Regions from separate parts of the Homo sapiens genome. Here region 2 is linked to region 1. The links come from fine-mapping of genetic effects on gene expression. A gene starts in region 1. The other region holds a variant in brackets. All regions are shown on one strand. Distances are between the middles of the regions. Region 1 holds the start of CAMKK1 (calcium/calmodulin dependent protein kinase kinase 1). Region 2 overlaps CAMKK1 (calcium/calmodulin dependent protein kinase kinase 1).

Region 1 (5,360 bases):
GGTCTCAAACTCCTGACCTCAGGTGATCCGCCTGCCTCGGCCTTCCAAAGTGCTGGGATTACAGGCGGGAGCCACCATGACTGCCCAATTTACTTTTAATTAATTTAAATAGTTACATGTGACTAGTGGCTACCAGACTGGACAACACAGGCCAGCCCCTGCCATCTCCCTCAGGGCCTTGGCCTTCTGCCCTCTTCCCCAACCAAGACCTATCATTTAGATTTTATAAGACTGGAACTTCCTCTTCTGCCCCCCCTTCTTTCTCCAGACACACCTGCTTTTGCACTTTCTGCCCCCTTCCCTTCCAAGTGAGCAGAAAAGGGTCCCTCCTCTGTATTCAGCCTCACCACCCAGCCCAGAGGCTGCCCAGCAGAAGCCACCTCCATTCTCCTACCCCTACATCTGTCCCCCTCTTCTGCCTCCTCCTGGCCCAGGTTCCCCAGCAGCTCTGCCCCTCTCCCCTCACTGCAACCCTTCCAGAAAGACCAGTCCACACTTCCCTCTGCAATTGGCCTCCACCCCAACCACTTCTCCTAGGTGCCCTTGCCAAGGTCACTGGCAGTGTCCTGGTTGCCAAGTCTTAAGCAGACACTTGGGCCCCATATCCTGCTTGGCCTGACAGCTTCTCACATTGTTGTCCAAGCCTTCCTTGTCGAAAGATTTCCTTCCAGCAGCTCCTAGGACACACCCTTTCCTGACTTCCCAGCCTGTCTGGCGTGCAAGGAAAAGACAGGTTTCAATTGCAGCTCTGCCACAGTTCACTGTGTGTCCTTGGGGGAAGTGGCTTAACTCTCCAAGCCTCCTCTGTGAGTCAAGGATAATAACAACTTCTTTTTTTTTTTTTTTTTAAATAGAGACAGAGTTTCACTATGTGGACCAGGCTGTTCTCAAACTCCTGGGCTCAAATGATACGCTCCACCTCAGCCTTCCAAAGGGCTGGGATTACCGGCATGAGCTACTGCACCCGGACAATAATAGCTTTTAGTAGGGTTGAGGAAAGACCTGTAAACAGCACCTGGCATACAGTCGAGCTCTGCCCCTCAATCTATCCACCCTCTCAATGGTGGAGTCCACTAGTTGTTCCGGATATCTGTTCTCCCGGTAGCAATTCAGTCCTTGGTTCTTGGTTGGGCATGTGGCTGCCCAGAATGGAAGCTGCATTTCCCAGCTTTCTCTTGCAGCTGGGTCTGGTCATGTTAAGTAAGCTCAAGCGGTGTATGTGAAAGTGCCACGTGGCAACTTCTGGGAACTTTCCTGAAAAGAGAGCTGGTGCAGACCCTCTGCCCTCTTCTTCATCCTTTTCTCCACTCCACTGCCTGGAATGCGTTATGTGATTGCTGGAGCTCTAGCTGGTATCCTGAACCATGAGGTCAAAAGCCACACTCAAGTTGCTGGAATTATTCATTCAACAACATCCACTGAGCACCTGTGCCATGCGACAGGCTGTGTGCTGGACGAATCAGGCACAGTGCTTGCCATCCAGGAGCTCCCAGTCCCAATGAGGAACCAGCAGGTAAACAGATGCCAGGTACAAGGAAGTACCTGGGTGGGGCCACTAACCCATGCTGGAAGTGGGGAGGTCATGGAGAAGGTTTCCAGGCAGAAGTAGGATTGAATTGAACCCTGAAAGACGAGTAGGCGTTAAACAGGCAGGTGGCTGGGAGTAAGGCTATACAGGGCTTGATTAGACCTATTCTCACGGTGAGCCATAGAAAATGCCTCTCGGTGGACTTGTGTTCCTGAAAACTTGCTCTGGGTGCCAGGGAGAGAAAGGCTAGTAGGAGGTGAGACTGGATGGGGCTGGAGGCCAGGGAGGAGGCTGCTGCAGCAATCAGGGACAAGATGGTGGTAGCCTGAGCTAAGGGAGGGGAAGTGGGGTGGAGAGGAGTGGGCCGATTCCAGGGATAGTTAAGAGGCAGTATGGCAGGGCCTGGAGATGGACTGGTTGGAGCAGGAAACAGGGAGGCAGCAGGTGACTCCCAGGCTCCTGGCTCCACTTCGAGACAGGGACGCAGGAGGTTAGATTTGGGGGAAGGATATGGGGCAAGTGGTGGTGCCAGAGGATTCACACGCGGAGGCGTTAGGGGAAGAGGTGGCGGCAGAGTCCCCAGGAACAGCCACAGCGAAGGTCACCTCACTGTCCTGCTGAGTTCCCTCTACTCCCTCGGCCCTCGCTAGGCCATTCCTGTCGCCGGCTCACCGAGCAAGCACTTCACTCTGTGCTAAGCCACCTCTCGGCCTCTCTGCCCCCGCCCCGCAGAAGCTACACTCCTGGGCCTGCCATTCAAGGCCTTCCTCCCCGGGCCTCGCCCCTCCCTCGCACGCACCGCGCCTCGCCCGGGAGGGAGGGGCGCTCTGGCTCCTGCAGGCCGGGATGGGGGCGCAAAGGGTTTGGCGGGGAAGCACGGTCCCCTGCAGGCCCAGGAGAAGGGCCCACGCCGCGGCCGGGAGGGACTTCGGGGACCCCAGGACGCCGGGGGCGTGGCGAGGTCGGCCCCGCCGCAGGGGAGGGAGGGCCCCTACCGCGCCGCCCACCGCGGTCCCTTAGTCCAGGAGGGGGCGGGAGTCCCGGGCTCCGATTGGGCGGCGCTGGCGGGGCCGTTCGCTCCGACCAATGAGCGCCGGCCGGGCGCGGCGGTGGGCGGGGCAGCGAGCGCTGCCCGGAGCCGCGGCGCCCGCGGGCTGAGCTCGGCGATCTGGGCCCCAGCGAGGCGGTGGGGCGGGGCGGGGCGGGGCGGGGCGCGCAGCAGGAGCGAGTGGGGCCGCCCGCCGGGCCGCGGACACTGTCGCCCGGCGCCCAGGTAGGGATCGGCGGGGCGGGGACGCGGGCGAGGAGCAGGAGGACGAACGCCTTAACACCTGCCCCGAGCCTGCAAGGGAGAGGCGGGGGGGGTCTGCCAGGCCGCGTCTACGAGGGAGCTGGGATCTGGTCAGGGCGGGGATCCTTCCCCTTCTGTCTGCGGGGCCGGGTCTGCGGGGTGCCTCGCGGAGTCTGCTCGGGTCTGCGCCGGCCGCCGGGACCGCATCGCCGCGGGTGCCCCGCCGTCTGCGTTCTTCCCCGCTTCTGTCTGCGGACCGCATCCATCCCCGGTGCACTGTCCCCCGCGCCCGGCTCCTGGTGGAGGCCACGTCTGTGCGGAGTGGGCCCGGCCCGGGGCACCCACGTGCGGTTCTCCGCGGAGCGCTCCTCCCACGGCCCGCCGGAGCGTCTTCCTGCAGGAGCCGGGGGCGGGGTGGGAGATGAATGGGGCGGCGGCGGCGCGCGGCTCAGGCTGCGCAGGGTCCTGCCTTGGCTGGGGCGAGAGGGGGCGGCAGAGGCGGGCGCTGCGGCTTCGGGGCCCGGGAGGCGCAGGGCTGGTGGCTGGGGGGGTGTCCACGTGCGCAGGGACCTGCGTGTGCTGTTTGGAGGCGGGTGTGCGTGTGTCACGTGGACGCGGGAGTGTGCCTGTGTCTGCGTGGGGGGTGCAGGACAGGATGGAGTGGTGTGTGAGGGCGGGTCACGCGGACACGGGCGTGTGCCTGTCAGGGGAGGGGGTGTGCTCAAGTCTTGGCGTTGCAGGGCTGTGCAGAGAAGGCTGTGTCACAGGCCACAGGACCGGGCCTTGGTGGTGTCCGCAGGGCGGGCACAGGAGTGTGGGAGGGGCACACAGCCTGTGCGCGCTGGAGGATCCCAGGGAAGTGGCGCTGGCCTCCCCAAGCCCTGCCCTCTTTCCTCCAGTACATACAAATTGACCCCCCACTGCGTCCCAGGCGCACACACTCTGGGGACCCTTCGCCTCTTCCTCGGTCTCCCACCGTCAGTCCTCACAGCAGCCATGGGAGTCGTTTTAAACCTCACCTAACCGAGGCACTCCCCTGCTCACAACCTCCCCCTGGCTTTGGGGGCCTCCTGGGCTCTGTCCACCAAGCTCTCCCCACCCCCAAACCAAGCCCGGAGTCCCAGCCAGGAAATGACTCTCCTATATGCACAGTGCAAACTTCCATCCTCGCCTCATCCTGAAATCCTGCTCAGTGCTCAGAAGAGAGCTCAGGTGCCACCTCCTCTAGGAAGCCATCCCTGAGGCCAGCACAATGAGTGAGGGGGCTTTCTCTCCAGATGTAACTCCTCTTGCTATCAGGTGCCTCTTATGTGGGGAAGACTCCACTCCAGCCACGTCAGCCTCCCTGCTGTTCTTCATACTGAGCAAGCACTGTCCCCTCATGGCGTTTGCACCTGCTGGTCCCTGCACCTGAAATGCTCTTCCCCAGATAACTACACTGCCTACTGCCCCTTCCTTCCTTCAGGTGTCTGCTCCAGTCCTGCTCCCAAAAGGCCTTCCTCAACTACACTGTATCAGCAGCATCTCCCAGCCCCTTTCTCTTGATCCTTCTTACTCGGCTGTATTTTTCTTCCTATATGTACCACTTGACATATCATATCTGAATCACTGGCTTTCTTGTTTGTTGCTTCTTGCCCCCACGAGAAATTAAACTGTATGAGAGCAGAGACTTGGTCTTTTTGGTTCACTGCTGTATCTCCCCACACAGGCTTGCACAGAGTCTGGCAGACAGCAGGTGCTCCGTGACTATTTGTGCTTGCATCCCAGGCGTCCATGTCCCTGGCTGCTCCCTAGCCTGTGACCCCCCCCCCAACCTTGCCCCCAGTCTGAGGCCACTTCTGCTCCTCTATCCATGACATTCCGAGTTCCTGGAAGGCCAGGTCTGGGAGAACTATAACCACATTTGCATGTTGGAAATCCCTCCAGCAGCTGGTGTGGAGGATGGGGTAGGGTGGGGTGGAGGTGTTAGCCTGGAGTCAGGGAAGACCCACATAGTGGGAAACGAAGCAGTGGGTAGAATCTGGACTTCTAAGGGGTTTGACTTGGTGAGCTCACCCAGCAGGTAGTGGGGAGATCAAGGAGGGCTCAGAAGAGGCGATGTCTGAGCTGTCCTCCAGGCAGCAGAGGAGAGGGAGGTGTGTTCCTGGCAGAAGGCACAGCTTGTACTGAGGCCTGGCAGCAGAACAGAGTATGCAATTTGGGAAGCTGTGGTGTGGCTGCAGTGGAGAGTAAGTGTGGGGTTGTGGGGAGCAAGGGTGGGCAACAGGGAAAGGACGAGTGACAAGGAGGGCTCCCGGATTGCTGACCTGGGTCAGGAAAGAATGGGGAGGGTGTGGTACCCGTCTCGCAATGGAGACAGAGGAGGACGAGCAGGTTTGGGGAAGATGCTGAGTTGAATCTGGGGCCTGTTGGATCTGAGCTGCTCGGGAACATGGACGGGGAGGTGGCAGCTAGCTGGAAAGAGTGGGGCTGGAGGCACAGACCTGGTGTGGAGGATGAGGAGGGGCAGAGGATGAGGCCTGGAGACCATCAGCCTCCGTG
Region 2 (5,360 bases), 22 kb after region 1:
GGGCACGGGCGACGGATGCAGGCTCTTCCTTTTTGTCCTTAAGTGGCTTTTGAAAGAGCCCACCTGGCTCAGAGAAGGCTGAGAGAGAAGAGGCTTTTTCTATCTTTCTCTGGTCCCCTGCGGAGCGATTCTCGCGAAGGAGTCGCAGGACAGCAGACACCTAAGGGGAGGTGCCGACGATGGTGTTGCCACCGCCCCAGCCAGAGTGCTCCCCGTCCCTCTGTCCCTTGACGCCATTCACTTATTGAGCCATGTGTTCACTCCCTTGCTCATTTATTCGACAAATTGTCCTTCACCCCTACCCTGGCTGAGGCTGGACCCTGGGGACACCCAACGCTGACGTATCGGTGATCCCTGCCCGCAGGTGTGCCTGCTCTGGTGACCACACTAAGGGGCAGGGGGGAATTTCAGTGAACATGTTCCCAAGCCCCAGGCCCTGGGAGTGGAGGCCTGGCCACAGGTGGCGGTAATGGTGGTGGGTGCACCCAGCCTGGCCTGGCCTGGCCGCGGGTGGCAGTAACGGCGGTGGATGCACCCAGCCTCATTGTTCCCTCAGCAACTCATTCATTCAGTCAACATTTGTTGAACATTTACAGTGTGAGTTGAGGTCCTTCTCATGTAATGGGAGCCCAGACCTGCCCCCTACCCCTGCCCCCACCAAGGGAGGGGGGTTGATCCCCTGGCACAGGTCGAGGCCCTGGACCCACATCCTTTGTCTGCCTCTCCACCCCACAGTGCCCATTCATCGACGATTTCATCCTGGCCCTCCACAGGAAGATCAAGAATGAGCCCGTGGTGTTTCCTGAGGAGTGAGTTGTCCACCCAGGGGAACAAGGGGGCTACCACCCGCTCCTGGTGTCTGAGTTTTAGCAGAGCTTTTGCCCTCTGAGGACCCCACCCCAGCCTGCAGATATGAAGGTGGCGGTGCTGTTCCCTGGGAGGGACCCCTGAATAGATGGACGGGAGGGACTCTGGAGCCAAGGGTCTCCGCAACGTCACTGTGTGGATGGGAACCCTGAGATCCAGGGTTGGCCAGGGATGACCACAGGCATCATTCACACCACTCCTTCACCGCAGGCCTGCCTGGGGTCAGTGGCGCCAGCCCCACCCAGCCCCTGGACTCAAGGGGAACTTCTCCTTCCCCCACTCAGGGTCAGGGAACTTCAAGATGCCAGTGCGTGCTCCCCATTTCACAGATGGAAAAGAGGATGCTCTGGAGGAGAGCGGTCAGGGGGCTGGGACTCAAGCCACTCTTCCTCCCCACTCTTCCCATTGTGACCGAGGTCTCTGAGCGTAGCAGGGACGTCGGGGAGGCCTCTTGCTCATGCATGGTTCGCCTCATGACGGCCACCGTGGCAGCCACAGCCTGAGCTCCCAGGCTCCTCTTTTCAGCAGTGGATTTCAGGAGTGAAATGGAGGCCGGGTGCGGTGGCTCACGCCTGTAATCCCAGCACTTTGGGAGGCTGAGGTGGGCAGATCACCTGAGGTTAGGAGTTAGAGACCAGCCTGGCCAACATGGTGAAACCCCATCTCTACTAAAAATACAAAAATTAGCCAGGCGTGGTGGCGCACATCTGTAGTCCCAGCTACTCGGGAGGCTGAAGCACGAGAATTGCTTGAACCCAGGAGGCAGAGGTTGCAGTGAGCCTGGGCGACAGAGCAAGACTCTGTCTCAAAAAAAAAAAACAGAAGAAAGAAACTGAATAAGGCCGGGTGCGGCGGCTCACACCTGTAATTCCAGCACTTTGGGAGGCCAAGGAGGGCGGATCACGAGGTCAGGAGATCGAGACCATCCTGGCTAACACGGTGAAACCCCATCTCTACTAAAAATAGAAAAAAAATTAGCCGGGCGTGGTGGCGGGTGCCTGTAGTCCCAGCTACTCGAGAGGCTGAGGCAGGAGAACGGCGTGAACCCGGGAGGCAGAGGTTTCAGTGAGCTGAGACCGTGCTACTGCACTCCAGCCTGGGCGACAGAGCGAGACTCTGTCTCAAAAAAAAAAAAAAAAAAAAAAAAACAAAAAAAAAAAAACAAAAAACAACAAACAAAAAAAGAAAATGAAACGGGACTTGTACTCAGCGACTCCTGCTCTCTTCTGCTTATTTCCTGTGTGGTCCCCAAGCCCTGCTGAGCCCTCCTCTTCCCTGTCTCTGGGCCTTGTTGCCACTTATACCCCTTGCCTCATTCAGGCCTCAGGCCCCTCCCCAGACTTATCTAGCCACCTTCCCCCTGGTCTCGCTGCTGCTGGCCTCCCTCCAGTCCAGCCAACACATTCAGGCGGGGACAGCCCTGATAAAGCACAACAAATCTGCCTGCATCTCTTGCCTGAAGTTTGTCTGAAGCTTCTCAAAGCCACACCCTGGCGCTAGCATTCACACGTCTCCGGGTTCTGCCACCCGCTCGTCTGGGGCCGCCTCACTCCCTTTCCCGAGCACCAGCCAGCTGGCTTCTGTCCATTTCCTCCTCATCCTGTGGTTGCCTTCCCTCCCTGCCTCCACAGTTGTACCCCTGGTGCCTCTCTTCCTGCTATACCCCCTGCTGAGGGGTGTCTTTCCCCTCAGCCCAGGAATTTTAAAAGGGATGAAGCATCTAAGACAACAGGGGGAACCGAAGTCAACAGTCCTGAGAGTGGCTTTCTGCTCCCTAGTCTTGGAAGGATGGGCTCCCCAAGACCACTGGTGGCAAAGAAACCTGGGGTTTGGCCGGGCGTGGTGGCTCACGCCTGTAATCCCAGCACTTTGGGAGGCCAAGGCAGGCGGATCATGAGATCAGGAGATCGAGATCATCCTGGCTAACACGGTGAAACCCCGTCTCTACTAAAAATACAAAAAATTAGCCGGGCACGGTGGCGGGCACCTGTAGTCCCAGCTACTCGGGAGGCTGAGGCAGGAGAATGGC[A/G]TGAACCTGGGAGGCGGAGCTTGCAGTGAGCCGAGATTGCGCCACTGCACTCCAGCCTGGGCCACAGAGCGAGACTCCATCTCAAAAAAAAAAAAGAACCCTGGGGTTTGGGCAGAGAGAGTTGGAGCTGATGTGGCGCTGAGGGGGCTGCTCCCTCCCATCTGAGTCTCCCATCTCTGCCTGCACTCTTCTGGCTGGCACTGTGCCAGCCTGCTAACCTCCCTGGGCCTCAGTTTCCTCCTCTGTCAAATGAGAGAGGATCTTCTCTGGGTGTAGAAAAGGACGAGGTGGTGAGTGGGTCTGAAGGCCTCTGGTGTCCCATAAAGCGACTCTCCTCACCATCTTTGCCACCCATTGGGGTGTCCAGCACCCATGGAACTCTGTCTGTGCCTCTGTCCTGGAGGGAGACTTGACCTCCTGCTCAGGAAAGGCTCTCCAAGCCCTTGTTGTGAAATTCCTGCCTGCTGTCCGGAACTCAGTCTTCCCATCCGAGGGACGAAGGTTTCGGGAAGAGAGGTGGACAGGAAGGGGTCCTCATCAGCGGTCCCACCCTCCTCTCCTTCCTTCGCCCTCTCCAGGCCAGAAATCAGCGAGGAGCTCAAGGACCTGATCCTGAAGATGTTAGACAAGAATCCCGAGACGAGAATTGGGGTGCCAGACATCAAGGTCGGGGAACTGGGGGTCTTGGGCTGGGCTGGGACACAGAAAACAGGAGTCACTTTCCCTTTCTGGAGGGATCAACACCAGGATGCATGTGTGTTGGGTTTGAGTCTGTGGACTTTGGACCCCTCCAGGTGATTCTGGTAATGGCCTGACCTCTCCCCCTCTCCCTGCCCTCCCGGCCCCGACAGTTGCACCCTTGGGTGACCAAGAACGGGGAGGAGCCCCTTCCTTCGGAGGAGGAGCACTGCAGCGTGGTGGAGGTGACAGAGGAGGAGGTTAAGAACTCAGTCAGGCTCATCCCCAGCTGGACCACGGTGGTAAGAGAGCCGGGGTAGATGCTCCCTTGTCCTGGAGGGCCTGGGGGACCTGAGCCTTGCTCTGTGCCTGGCTCCTTGGGGGGACAGAGGCCTGCCTGGCCAGCCAGCTGTGATCCTGGGCCACTGGAGCCGCCATTCTGCTGGAGGCCCATGGAGAGGGAGGTCTTGTGGTCGGGAGACCAGGAGGCTTGGTGAGGAGAGTGACTGATTTAAAGAAATAGCGGGCGTGGGGCCGGGCGCGGTGGCTCACGCCTGTAATCCCAGCACTTTGGGAGGCCAAGGCGGGCAGATCACGAGGTCAGGAGATCGAGACCATCCTTGAAACCCCGACTCTACTAAAAATATAGAAAATTAGCTGGGCGTGGTGGCGGGCGCGTGTAGTCCCAGCTACTCGGGAGGCTGAGGCAGGAGAATGGTGTGAACCCGGGAGGTGGAGTTTGCCGTGAGCCGAGATCGCGCCACTGCACTCCAGCCTGGGCCACAGAGCGAGACTGCGTCTCAAAAAAAAAAAAAGAAGAAAAGAAAAGAAAGAAATACCGGGCGCGGTGGCTCACGCCTGGAATCCCAGCACTTTGGGAGGCCGAGGCGGGTGGATCACGAGGTCAGGAGATCGAGACCATCCTGGCTAATACGGCGAAACCCCACCTCTACTAAAAATACAAAAAAATTAGCCGGGCGCAGTGGTGGGCACCTGTAGTCCCAGCTACTGGGGAGGCCGAGGCAGGAGAATCGCTTGAACCTGGGAGGTGGAGGTTGTAGTGAGCCAAGATCACGCCATTGCACTCCAGCCTGGTTGACAGAACGAGACTCCATCTCAAAAAAAAAAAGAAAGAAATAGATGGCCCTTGCTCAGCGGCAGCAGTCACCGTGACTGGAAGAAGCATTTCATTCCGTCCAGACAGTTACTGAGCTTCCGTTCTCCAGGCACTGCACAAGGTGCCGAGGACAAGGCAGGGGAACGGCCTGGGCAGCCTTTGGATTGGAGGAGTGGCCCCAAAGCCCACGTATCAGTTAGGCGGCGCCTGCGTCTCCCCCAGAGCCCACGTATCAGTTAGGCAGCACCTGTGTCTCCCCCAGAGCCCACATATCAGTTAGATGGGCCTGCGTCTCCCCCAGCGCCCGCGTATCAATCAGGCAGTGCCTGCGTCTCCCCCAGATCCTGTGTATCAGTTAGACGGTGCCTGCATCTCCCCCGTGCCCACGTATCAGTTAGACGGCGCCTGCTTCTCCCCCAGAGCCCACGTATCAGTTAGACGGCGCCTGCTTCTCCCCCAGAGCCCACGTATCAGTTAGACGGCGCCTGCTTCTCCCCCAGAGCCCACGTATCAGTTAGACGGCGCCTGCTTCTCCCCCAGAGCCCACGTATCAGTTAGACGGCGCCTGCTTCTCCCCCAGAGCCCACGTATCAGTTAGACTGCGCCTGCTTCTCCCCCAGATCCTGTGTATCAGTTAGACGGCGCCTGCTTCTCCCCCAGAGCCCGCGT

What was found. PIP is the estimated chance that this variant, and not a neighbour inherited with it, causes the effect.
Region 2: its variant is the best candidate, but not a certain one, in a credible set for the expression of CAMKK1 in whole blood (TOPMed, PIP 0.53).

The regions. Positions count from the first base shown.
Region 1 is chr17:3,890,380-3,895,739 of GRCh38, reverse strand. It overlaps CAMKK1 (calcium/calmodulin dependent protein kinase kinase 1), which reads left to right and starts at 2,687. Exons shown (of 16, transcript NM_032294.3): 1 at 2,687-2,801. RefSeq lists silencers at 2,241-2,780, 2,811-2,990, 3,131-3,380.
Region 2 is chr17:3,868,003-3,873,362 of GRCh38, reverse strand. CAMKK1 (calcium/calmodulin dependent protein kinase kinase 1) reads left to right here. Exons shown (of 16, transcript NM_032294.3): 12 at 736-809; 13 at 3,475-3,562; 14 at 3,748-3,876. Among named protein-coding and RNA genes, the nearest start is that of CAMKK1, 22 kb to the left of the region's middle. RefSeq lists enhancers at 4,567-5,066, 5,067-5,360. The variant A/G (reference allele first, on the strand shown) is at 2,897.